3 separate regions of the Homo sapiens genome follow, and regions 2 and 3 are each linked to region 1. The links come from fine-mapping of genetic effects on gene expression. A gene starts in region 1. Each other region holds a variant in brackets. All regions are shown on one strand. Distances are between the middles of the regions.

Region 1 (4,241 bases):
CACTCAGTTGGCACTAACTTTTCTGTGTGCTCATGGAATTTTCTTTATTCCTCTATTATGTTCTTTTTTACATAGTCATCTTTCTATTTGTGTATCTCTCCCACTGGATTACAAACTTTCTAAAGACAAGGACTGTGTTGTTCACAGTGTGTGATGCCTTCATGTAATAGGCACCAGGATACGTTGGTTGAAATCAGTTCACTGATATACTGGAAACAGTGTAAAATCCCACCAGTGACCATATTGAAAAGTCCCATGTGTATGCTGAATAAATGAACACACTAGAAAAACTGGACACCATATACAAGACATACTCCCAAAACAGGATCATTAATACAGACACTATTTATAAAGGAGTTCTGTATTGTGTACACCATGGGTGAACAAAATTGGTTCCTGGTTCACACAAATAACAGACACCCACAGAAAGTTATCTGAATGGCTAGCTGCCTAGGCATGTTTTAAATAATGATGATCAAATGGGGTAGCCCAGAGAACAAAACACAAGTGGCAATTTTTGATATCATGTTCTTGTACAGATACAAAATTTTAATTGGGTTTATGTGCCATGAAAAGAAATGATATATGTAGAAGTACATTTTATATGTTAGTAATCATCACCACCATCTTCAAAATGACCAAATTAAGGCTATGGGGCAGGAAAGTCAATCTGACAGAGTTATTTTTGGGTAGGAAGTGAAGCCAAGATAAAAACATGTTTTCTGTAAAAGCCTTGATAATTAAAAAAAAAGTATATATGTGAATATCTTTATAAGTTTCTATTATTCTTCATTGCATTGTGGAACAATTGACTTTCTAGGAAAGCTATTTCTGTGGCTTCATAGGATTACCATTTGCTTTCACCAGAGGATTAGGTATTTTTAAATGGCATGTGTATTACTTCTCTGAGTTTATTAAGATGATAATAAAATCTTACAGAAAACTTCTAACAGGTGTTTTCTACAGTCCTTTGCTTCTGGGCTGTCTTCTCCTAAAATACCATAAACGGTTTTGTTTGTTTGTTTGTTTGTTTCTAAAGTCTAAGAATGACTTTTGTGGGACAGTGGAGGTGGGGGTGTCTGTGGGATGAGAGGCTTGGCAAATAATTCGTTTCCAAGGATACACTAATTTCCGCCCTTCAGCCAGGTTCATCCACAGTCAGTAGTGTAATTGAGTTTAGTTCTTCCTGGTCTTTCAGATAAGTAACCCTTTTGCCAGTTACAAACCCTACTTGCAATTCTATTTTCTATGGGCTCTTAATTATTGAAAGGGAGGATTAGTCATGAATCTCCTTTTTCACTCCTTTACTAATCAAGCTCAAGTTCTGCGAGCAAACAGCAACAGCAAAAGCAAATACTTTGGCGCCAACACTTAGCCTTGCCTCACTTAAGAGGCAGAATTATGTAGGCTTGTTTGCTTAACAACTCAGATAGGGGGCGGGGAGGGTGACCGGAGGGGACGAGGGAGGGGACGAGGGACGGGACGAGACGAGGGAGGGGACGAGGGAGGGGACAAGGGAGGGCCCGCCCCCTTGGAACGGGATTGGTTCCCTCTCTCCCTTTAGCCGTTCACTTTGCATCTCGGTTGGACAGGTTGAGAGAAACATGTCATTAAGGTATTGTCAATATGAGCCCTTCAGGTGTGGGCGTTCCCTAGGTTTGTGGTTTTAGACTTTCAAAGGGGCGGACTTATTATTGGCTGTGGGATCAAGTTCGTGAAACTGGTCTTGTACAGGTTGAAAAATGCCTTCCTAACAGGAGGCGCCAAGGAGCTTAAGTGTAACTCACACACAGTAAAGAAAATGACGAAAGTTCCTCCGGCGTTTGATTTCAGTTTCTTAAATGACGAAGAGGCCAGGAAGATCCTTCAGGTGCTGGAAAGGAATGAGGAGTTACAGAGGGCCGAGAAGGACAGGATCAGGTACAGAGCAAATTCATTTCTTTTGTCCTGGGCCTGGGTCCCGCAGGGGCCGGGGATCCGCGGGGAAGGCGCTGAGCTCGCGCGGGGCACCTGCCCGGGGGTGCTCCGAGCGGCTGCTGCGGAGGCTGCGGGTCGGGAAGAGAAAACTGCGCGGAGTTGCTCCCTGAAGGACTTTGGGATGCTTAGTTGGTACCCTCTCCACCCACCACATACCAGACGGGCTCGGCTGCGGGTCTGGGGTCGGGCAGGGTGGGGGGGTCCGTGCGCTGCGGGGGCCGCGCAGTGACGCTGTGCTGTGCCGGGTGTCTGCTGGGCCATCGCGGGGCGTGGGCCGTTTCAGGCAATGAAATGCGGCGGGGGCGCGATCTGGAGAGGAATCCTGGCTGCTGCTCACTCCGCGGCCCGCGCGCACCCACGTGCTCGCACGGGTCCGACAGAGCTTCCACCCTCGCCTAACGCAGTTTTCCCTCGGCACCAGAGGCGAATCTCCCCACCCAATGCGGGCAGTCAGCGAAGCACGGGAGAGCCGGCACCTCACGGGAGGCGAAAGGTCCCCACCCCAAGGGTAGGAGCTCGAGGAATTTGTCAAATAGAGGCTTATGTGGGCGAATGGGACTTGGACACACGGGGTTGGCTGGAATGGGTGGGTCTTCTTGTGCGTGGTGCTGTGGGGAGCGAGTTTCTGAGAAATTTCATCCTTGACCTTACTATACACTGTTGTAGGTGAGGGATTAGTTACTAAAGAATGAAATCCAGAGACACAGATAATTACCCAGGATGTACATTAACCAGTTTTTCTGCTGGGGAAGTGTGGGATAAGTGCTGGAATGAATTAAAGGGACTCTCTCGCCAATATTGGAATATATCCATCTAAGTCCTTCTCTAGATAACTGTGGAAGGGAATTCAGGACATCACTCTCAGACCACACTGTGTGCCATTGATTGGAATTTAGCAAGTCATTTTGTTTTATGATCAACTGCTTGCTAATGCGAGTTCCAGGTTCCCAATTCTTTCTAGAATTGCCTGTCCCCCACCGCCGACAAAAGAAACCCTCCAGGGACCCTCTTCAAATTGGAAAATCTAGTTGGTCTTTGTAGAAAGAATTAGAATACACTAAGCCCAATGCCCTGACTTCACCCTTCTCCCCTAAACATGACTCTTTGAGGGATGAAGGAATATTTGAGGTTGGGGAATATGGATTTCATACCATCTGCCTTGAGAAAAAGTGGCTTTATCATTCCCCTCCCCTGAACAGTGTAGAAAGTGTGCCTTCAGGAGAACAGTATGCCACACCCACACACACCCACGTGCATAATGTACCTACACATATGCACATGCACCGCACAAGGCACACCCAACTTTCAGAAGAAGAATTTCAGAACTGCACGGAATTTCAGTGCATATTCCAAAGGCACTAAGAAACTGCGGTTATTCTCAGTGTGTGTTATTGGAAATGTTTCTTGTCTCTGAAGAGGATGGGGCTTCTTAAGTGATCCATTGTATATTTGGGGAAATTGAGGGGAGAGTTAGAAAATAACAAGGAGAGAAGCTTTCATTTAAGATGTTATCTTGACTTTTTATTTTTGACCTGATGCTTGCTTGCCTTATTGTGTTTTCTCTATTGCAACTCACGATGCCCACTGCAGTTGACTTTAGAGGGAACTGGATCTCCACATAGATCTACACAAAGCACGTGTATCTACACAAAGCCATTGGGCTGGGCATTAGAAGGAAGGTCAAAACACATTTTCTAATTTCATGGCACTCATATTCTAATGGAAGCATCAACAGAAAAAGCCATAATGCTAAGACAAAATCGATACTGTATTATACTAATTATTAAAAGTATTTAATTGCCCAAACAATTTGAAAAATATCACCATTAAAATACAAAAATCATTTAAGGAAAGTAGATGTGTGGACCAAATACCCAAGGCAATGATTTCTAGTACTGTCTTTTCCTTTGATTAATTCCCCACTTCCACTATCAAATACCCATGTCTGGCTTGCAGGCTCCATGGGATTGTTCTGCTTACCCACTTCAGGCTCACATGTATTAATTTCAGTATCAGATATTGGCATGCAGAAAGGGCCTGAGACAACATGGCAACTTGGCTGCCTCTTCTGCTCATTTTCTTGATATGTGTGATCATATTTTCCAAATCAAAAATCAGGACACATGACTTATAACTCAAGAGTATAATTTCATTCTGTTCTGGCTTGGCATATGTGAACAACAACAAAAAAGAGATGCTTCAACAGGCCTGTCTGAGAGACTCAGGGAAGCCTTTTTACTGTATTGAGAAAGAGCTTCAAGACC
Region 2 (4,241 bases), 30 kb after region 1:
TGGTGTGCTGTAGTGGCCAATCTGAGTCCCCAGTTAGTGTGAAATAGACTAGCCTGTGAATTACACTCTGAAGCAAATGCCAAGAGTTGCCAATTTTGCCATTTGCTTGGCTCTTTACCTTGGATTTCATAGAACCAATATTTTAAATGGTACCTGGGCTAAAATAATCAGCAAAGGTATTGAGCAGATAAGTTATCAAAAACTACAGGCCAGGCATGGTGGCTCATGCTTGTAATCCCGGCACTTTGGGAGGTGGAGGTGGGCGGATCACCTGAGGTCAGGAGTTTGACACCAGCCTGGCCAACATGATGAAACCCCATCTCTACTAAAAATACAAAAATTAGCCAGGCGTGGTGGTGGGTGCCTGTGATCCCAGCTACTCGGGAGGCCGAGGCAGGAGAATAGCTTCAACCCGGGAGGCGGAGGTTGCAGTGAGCTGAGATCTCACCACTGCACTCCAGCCTGAGTGAGACAGAGTGAGACTCCATCTTAAAAAAAAAAAAAAAAAAGCTACACATATCCAATAAACATAATAAATAATGTTCAACCTCTCTAGTAATCAAAGAAATACAAAGAAAAAAAAAGAAAACTTTTTTTGGCTTATCATATTAGCAAAGATCAAAAAGAATAGACATAACTAACATTGGCAAGCACATGGGGAAATGGACCGTCATACAAGGGAAAATTTGATACAACCTTTTTCCAGGGTAATTTGGTGTGATATAGTTCATAAGTCATTAAAACATGTTCATCCTTTGGCCTGGCAATTCCACATCAAGGAAATTGATTCTAAGGAATTAATCAGAGATGGGCACAATGCTAGTTTTGAACTGGGTTTATTTCAACATTATGACTCTAAAAAATTAGAAATAACTCCAACGAGAGGGGAGTAGGATCATATGTTACAGTACAGAGATGCAGTGGTGGAATACTGACATAGCATAGCATTCTTAATGTAATGCTAAGTGGGAAACATAGACTACACAAAGCATGCATAGGGTAAGAGCATTTTTTGAAAATGCAGGCATACATAACTGACATGTGGAGCAAGTAGGAATCATGGAATATAACAAGAAAACATCTTTAGTTTTGTCTCTTACTATCCTTTTATTTCTTTTTTATTTTTTTAGACCGTCTTGTTCTGTCACCCAGGCTGGAGTGTAGTGGTGCGATCTCAGCTCACTGCAACCTCTGCCTCCTGGGTTCAAGCGATTCTCCTGCCTCAGCCTCCTGAATAACTGGGGTTACAGATGCCCACCACCATGCCCAGCTAATTTATTTTTTTTTGTATTTTTAGTAGAGACAGGGTTTCACCATGTTGGCCAGGCTGACCTCGAACTCCTGACCTCAAGTGATCCGTCCGCCTCAGCCTCCCAAAGTTCTAGGATTACAGGCATGAGCCACCGTGTGCAGCCGTCTCCTACTATCCCTTTAAATGCCACTGGATACAAACAAAGGCAGTCCCTTGACTTTTCTGGTCACTTTAAGACACAAACACAGTCTCAATTCAGAGATAATTAGAACATACGGTCCTAGATTAATCCCAGCTTTATTCAGAGGAGCAGCCCCTCACACAGCCACCGCTTGCTGCAGAGCGACGCCTAGGACAGTGAAGAGGATTTGATCCTTTTCCCTTTCCCCATCAACCTCTGCCTCTCCACCCCTTCAGTGGTGGTTTTTTACTGTTCCAGGGTTGAACCGGACGGTGGCTGGGAGGCAGGTTTAAGTTTGGATGGAAGGCACATGCAGAAAAGCTGTTGCTTGACTAGAATGGTTGTGAGGTGGCATCACTCTCTCTGGGTAGGGCAGATGTTTAAATCTGCCTCTTCTCTTGTGTGCTCGTCTGGGGTTTGCTGAGATGGCCCGTGGCCCGGCACTGTTCCCCAGCAGCTCTTTCCATGCAGATAATGTGCTCTCCCCTGCTCTGTGCTAGGAATCCAGGGGTTCACCCACAACCTCTTTCTACTCAGGTTTATTCACCCCTGGAGCTGACTCTAGCAGGCATGAACTAAGAGAACCCCATGCCTCCTCAGCCTCTCCTGGGGCCCACATCTTCTCCACGGGACACAGTCATACTGTGGTTGCTTGAGAAACCCTGGAAATGAGGGCTGATTGACAGCTGAGCTATGCACTTCATTCTGCAGTCAAAGCAACTGGCAGGCCCCAGTTTCTCCAGCTCAAATTTCTCAGGCAGGAGGCAGATACCAGTCTACCTTTCCTCCAAACCACAAGGGACAAAATTAAGCTCTTCCAGTCGTACCAGTTAAGCTCCCTGGCTCTAGAGAAAGCCTCCTCACAGATCCTCCCTCTGTCTTCACTCTTCCAAGTCAATGCATGTAAGGGGACTTAAA[C/AC]CCTAACTAGAGAGATTTGGCTTTTGTTTGTTTTTAAAAATCCCACAAAGCAAGTTCTCCTGATTGGTCTTCTCACAACTCCCTTAGATGTCTTGAATCTCTTGCTTTCATGCTTTAGCTAAAACTGAGTCAGAGTCCTAGTCCTGTGACTACTGCTTTAAAACACATGAATGAACATATGTACACACACAGCAGTATCTCTGACAGTGGGAGTTATGAGTGATTTCTTTTATTCAAGTTTTTGTTTGTTTGTTTGTTTTAAATGGAGACAGGATCTCACCATGTTGCCCAGGCTGGCCTTGAACTCCTGGGCTCACTTGATCCTCCTGCCTCGGCCTCCCAAAGTGTTGGGATTACAGGTGTGAGCCACCATGCCCGGCCCCTTCAAGTTTTTTCTTTAATTTCCAAGTCTTTTGCATTGAATGTAATTTTACTTTCTTTCTTTCTTTTTTTGAAACAGCGTCTTGCTCTGCTGCCAAGTCTGGAGTGCAGTGGTGCGATCTCAGCTCACTGCAACCTCTCCCTCCCAGATTCAAGCAATTCTTCCACCTCAGCCTCTCTAGTAGCTGGGACTACAGGTATGCACCAGCATACCCAGCTAATTTTTGTATTCTTTTTTTTTGTTGTTGTTTAGTAGAGAACGGGTTTCTCCATGTTGGCTAGGCTGGTCTCAAACTCCTGACCTCAAGTGATCCACCACCTCGACCTCCCAAAGTGCTGCGATTATAGGCGTGAGCCACCCAGCCCGGCCTGATGTAATTTTACTTTCACAATTACAAAAAAAAAAAAAAAAAAACACAGAAAAAATTGTATAATGGCAAAGCAAAGTCAGTTTTATTGACATTTGAAATTTCCTGTCCCAATCAATGCTGGAGAATTCCTCTGTGAACAAATTCCTACATGCTGCTTATGGCTGGATGTTTTCATTATGTTCTTTCAGGTGACAAGGAACATAGAGCAGTTTCCTCAAGGGATGGGTGGCACTTTATTGTCAGGATCTAATGGAGAAGTAAGGAAACACAGGAAACGGCCTCAACCCTGCACGGCCAGTCCTCAGGAACCGGAATGTTGATCAGAATACTGCAGCATTCTGGTGCCAATCAATCAACCAGGCTAGTAACCACAGGCTTGTGGTCCAGCTTCTCTGTTCTGCTTCTCCCTACTCACTTCCATTGCCAGGGCTGATTTTCTTCTTGCAAGTTTCCTCTCTGCCCCATAGCTTCCTCCTGTTCAAGACTCTGGTGCCTGATGGCTTCTCTTCATGGTACTGCTCAATACCTTCTCGCTATGTGTCTCTTAGCCATGTCACTTTAGTTTGTCTTACTTGGCATTATGATTTTAAGACATGCCAAGAGGAAAGACGTTATTAAGTTGTTAATCACTCTCCAAAATAGAACAAATAGAATTCACTGGGCAGCATTCTTGCTCATGTTTAGCTTTTGGGTGATTAGGGTAGGAATGCAAAAAATGTTGGATCCCACGAGGCAAAGCACAGGAACTACCCATGACCACTTTACTATGAGTAGGACAGACTCCCAACACTTCATGGGATACCTGTTTGCTAGAAAAGTGGTCCACATCTTTCAGACAGATCTACCACCATGCTTAATTCATTACTTCTGTGGCTTGATCGAGTGCTATTTTTGGGTGTTGGCAAAGAGAATAGAGATGCCAGAATGATTTAAAACAAAACAAAACAAAACAAAACAAGATGGAGGGAATCAGATATCCAGATTTCTTTTTCTATGCCAATAATGTCAAAGGGAATCAAAGCTAAATAGTTGATGTCTTTTAAAATCTAAGATCATTATTAATAAATAATAGGCTACAACCATAAACATATACCAAATAAACAGTTCTTTCCTTCTATAAAGCACACCTGGCACTACT
Region 3 (4,241 bases), 83 kb after region 1:
GTCAAATGCCATTCACACTCTCCTTTTAGGAATGAAAGAGGAAAAGGAAAAATAAGGCATCATATATCCTGTATTGAAAAGTTAAGCAAAACAGAAAGTATATCAGTACCCACCAGTGATCACAGGAGCCTCATTGAAGCAAATCAAAGCAATTCCAAAGTTTCTGAACTTGACACAATTTATTGTACCTTGCCAAGAAAATCAAGCAGTTTTCTCATACATGGCAGGCAGTCAGGAAGTAAAATAATGGCTGCTTCATTGAGGAATGGGCCACCTCCCTTCCAAATCAAAAATAATGTGGAAGATGCAATGGGGAACTATATGTTAAACAAATTTAGTCCCAGTTCTCCTGAGTCAGCGAATGAATGTTCCAAAGTCCTTTCAGACTCAGCCCTGGAAGCACCTGAAGCCACAGAGAGAATGACAAATGTAAAAAGCAGTGGATCTACTTCCGTTAGAAAAGGACCACTTCCATTCCTCATCAACAGGGCTATGTCATGTCCCTCAGGGGAGCCACATGCCTCAACTGGAAGAGAAGGAAGAAAAAAGCCATTGACCTCAGGCATGGATGCTTCTGAGCTAACACCAAGGGCTTGGGAGAGAATCATTAGCCCTGTGGAAAGTGACTCATCTGTTAGAGATTGTTCTTTAACCAAAAGACAACACCAAAAGGAAAACTTCCAAGAATACACTGAGAAAGAGGGTAAAATGGCTGCCTCCAGGAGAAGTGTATTTGCTCTTTCAAATGAAGACCCTTTACCTTTTTGCTCAGACTTGTCAGGAAAAGAACGTGGGAAAACATTACATAAAGTTAAGACGACTAGTACGTTTTCTGTTTCTGGTGATGAAGATAATGTAAAATGTCTGGAGGTGGTCTCAATATATTACACTCTACCGAGGAAACCCAGCAAAAAATTCTGTAACCTCCTTCAACAGTATACACAAAATACTAATTTACTTATAGAATCACCTCAAGTGGAGACTGAAACATTTCCTAACGCTTTAGAAAAAGACAAACAGAATTATTCTACACGAGAGCAGTCAGGAACACCTTCATGTGAAAATCTAAAGATGTCCGTCAACTCTGATCAGACGCTCACCACTGAAAATATGACTGCCTTCCGATTATCAAATAGGGGGCCCCTAGCTCCTACATTACAGGAAATGGCTTCTGTTGAGGCAGCTGTTTCTCTTCCTGAAGAGGAATCTAAAGCTAGAGAGATTTTTTCAGATAATTTAGCTAAAACACCTCTAGGTGATTCAGAAAACAAGAAGGAAAGAGGCAAAAAGTTGCAAAGTGAAACCCTGCATACTTCATTGATGCTTCAGAGAAAAAATGTATCCGAAGAAAAATCTGAAAATTGTCAACAATCCATTAATTCAAGTAACAGTGGTCCCTCTAGTCTTCCAGCTCTTTCAGAAGTTAATATTGGAAATTCCCAAACTAGAAGAAGTTCTTGGGAGTGTACAGGGAGTGGTAGAGCCATTCCATTTACTGGAAGTGGCAAGTGTCCCCAGAAAGATCACACATCCACAGCTGTAGGTGATGGCTCCAGTGGATCACAGCCTAGGGAAGGCAGAGGGGACATTGGAACCAACTGCCAAAAAATGACTAATAAAACACTTTCTCACTCAGAGAGTCAAGTCTTTGCCCTTACTCCAGCATTGCATAAACTACAGCTTGGTGAGGAGACTCAGTCAGATGAACCAAACTT[A/G]GAGAGTCTGCAGTCTGAACCAAGAGAATTACCTCAAAGAAGTCAGGAGGCAAATATGACAGAGAGCAGGAAGGCTGAAGATGAAATGCAGAAGTCAGCTTGGGATCAACCTTCACTTCCTGAAGGAAACAAAAATAAAACCAACTTGGATGACCTAGTAAAGGGGGAAAATAGATCTTCAGTTAAACACAGATTGGCAGCCATGTCTAAAGCCAGCAGAAAATTCCCAGCTAAAGATGTAAGCCCCAGAAGACATGTAGCTACTATCTTCCCCCAAAGTGGAAGCAGATCTGGCTTTGACCATTTATCTCTTGGCACAGTGGAGTGCAACCCACTGTTCCCTGAGCCTACTCCAAAATCTGCAGAGTCCATTGGCGAAAGCAGGTTGAGTGAGAACGGAAAGCATGTGAAGAAATCCGAGAACCTTCTCCCCATTACTGTACTACCCAACAGAGAACCTTCTACACACGTCAGCAACCAGAAGTCTAACAGCATTTCACAACGACATCAGAATGAGTTTAAAAACGTCTCAGAATCACCATCAAAGCATGAGAATTCTAAAGACGTCACAGCAGCTCAGAATTTAGTAAGAGAATCAGGAGCCCCATCACCCATCACATTCACCAGCCTCAGGGAAGCAGAATTCTCTGACAATCAGAGGAGGCTGAGCCCTCCTTTTCCACTGGAGCCTGCACAGAAATCTAGAGTAAGCAGTCCACTGGCCAGTTTTCTGCAGCAACAAAGGAGTGCTTCATCTCTGGAGTGGGAACCTGAGCCACACCTCTATCGTTCAAAGAGTTTAAAAAGCATTAATGTTCATGGCGATCTACTACGAAAAAGCCATCCTCCAAAAGTCAGGGAGCGCCATTTTTCTGAAAGCACTTCTATTGACAATGCCCTGAGTCGACTGACCCTTGGGAATGAATTCTCTGTCAACAATGGGTACAGTCGAAGATTCAGATCTTTTTCTGAACTCCCCTCCTGTGATGGAAATGAAAGTTGGGCTTATCGCAGCGGGACAAAAACAGGTCCCAGGTCTGCAATATCTATATACAGACCTATCGACTATGGGATCTTTGGGAAAGAACAACAGTTAGCTTTCTTAGAAAATGTAAAGAGGTCACTTACACAAGGAAGATTATGGAAACCAAGTTTTCTTAAGAACCCTGGCTTCCTAAAAGATGATTTGAGGAACCCTCCCAACCCCTCAGAGTCATTAAGCTCAAATTCTCCCAGTAGTCAGGTGCCAGAAGATGGCTTATCTCCAAGTGAACCGCTTAATATCTATGAGGATGACCCAGTGGACTCAGATTGTGACACAGACACAACCACAGATGATGAATACTACCTGGATGAAAATGACAAAGAGTCAGAACTGTGAGGCTTTTTCAATAAAATGCTTTACTTTTTTCACCAAAAGCTTATAATGGAACTAAGGTGTACATGTGCATGTGCATGGAAGGATAAAAGATCTAGTCTGGGCAGTGTCTGCTCTGAAATGTCCCACATCTCCTTTTTTTTCCTCCACACCCTATATAGACACTTCCTGAATGCTAGAACAATGAATTCTTGTTTTGAGAGAGTCTCTGCTATTTTCTATCTCTGTAAATGTTCTTAGCCTGCCTTTCCACCACTCCCACTTAATCCCTGATTCACTGTCTGATTTGGGCTTTCTGCTTTACTTCCCTCCTAACATTTTTCATCTTTAATTGTGATTTACAACCCTAATATCCCAGGCACATACAAAACTTATGAATTACCCAGCACAACTGTGAAACTCTGTATTGCTTCTTCCGGTCCACACCCTATACTCATGACATTAAATAAAAGGTAGGGATGATAACAGTGGGGTAAATATTATCATCCTGTTTGACTCATGAACATTTAGGAAGTTTAAGGTGGTGATCTTCTCTTTCAAACAAAGATAAAGGAATTTATTTTTTAACCTGAGAAACTGATTGCAAAAAGGAAAAAAAAAAGATAAAGGAATTTTGTAAGTACTTCCTGTTATATCCGTAGTGGAGCCTGGGAGGCACATGGTCAAAGCACATGTTGAGGTTATAGATTAGGACCTGAATCCCTAGTAAGCCAATAGAAGGTTAGCAGTCCTAGAAATTCCTCTGAAACCGTGGGGGACTGGCTGGATTATTAAGGGCTTTTAGTCAAGCCAAGGACTTAGGCCAGGCAACCTGACCATACAGAAAGTTGCCTGGTCACAGAATTTCTGCTTATGAAGAGAACATAGCTGAGGAGCAGAGGTAGGAAGTAGGTATCCCTTCATGGGACCGACTTACCTTTACTGCAGTTCTCTCAGCAACTGGCTTTTCCCATTTCCTCAGAACTATCCATTTTCACATTTTCTTTTTTTTGTTTTTGTTTTTTGTTTGGTTTTGTTTTGTTTTTGTTTTTTGGAGACGGAGTTTTGCTCTGTCACCCAGGCTGGAGTGCAGTGGCATGATCTGGGCTCACTGCAACCTCCGCCTCCCGGGTTCAAGCGATTCTCCTGCCTCAGCCTCCAGAGTAGCT

What was found. PIP is the estimated chance that this variant, and not a neighbour inherited with it, causes the effect. A credible set is the group of variants that fine-mapping cannot tell apart.
Region 2: its variant is the best candidate, but not a certain one, in a credible set for the expression of EXPH5 in aorta (GTEx, PIP 0.55).
Region 3: its variant is the best candidate, but not a certain one, in a credible set for the expression of EXPH5 in lung (TOPMed, PIP 0.72).

What each region holds. Positions count from the first base shown.
Region 1 is chr11:108,591,097-108,595,337 of GRCh38, reverse strand. EXPH5 (exophilin 5) reads left to right here and starts at 1,570. Exons shown (of 6, transcript NM_015065.3): 1 at 1,570-1,920. The coding sequence starts at 1,802. RefSeq lists silencers at 1,384-1,683, 1,704-1,753, 2,034-2,093.
Region 2 is chr11:108,561,172-108,565,412 of GRCh38, reverse strand. All of the region lies in intron 1 of EXPH5 (exophilin 5), which reads left to right. Among named protein-coding and RNA genes, the nearest start is that of EXPH5, 30 kb to the left of the region's middle. RefSeq lists an enhancer at 2,140-2,249. The variant C/AC (reference allele first, on the strand shown) is at 2,352.
Region 3 is chr11:108,508,392-108,512,632 of GRCh38, reverse strand. EXPH5 (exophilin 5) reads left to right here. Exons shown (of 6, transcript NM_015065.3): 6 at 1-4,241. The coding sequence ends at 3,096. All of the region lies in intron 1 of LOC112267909 (a long non-coding RNA gene), which reads right to left. Among named protein-coding and RNA genes, the nearest start is that of POGLUT3, 12 kb to the right of the region's middle. The variant A/G (reference allele first, on the strand shown) is at 1,716.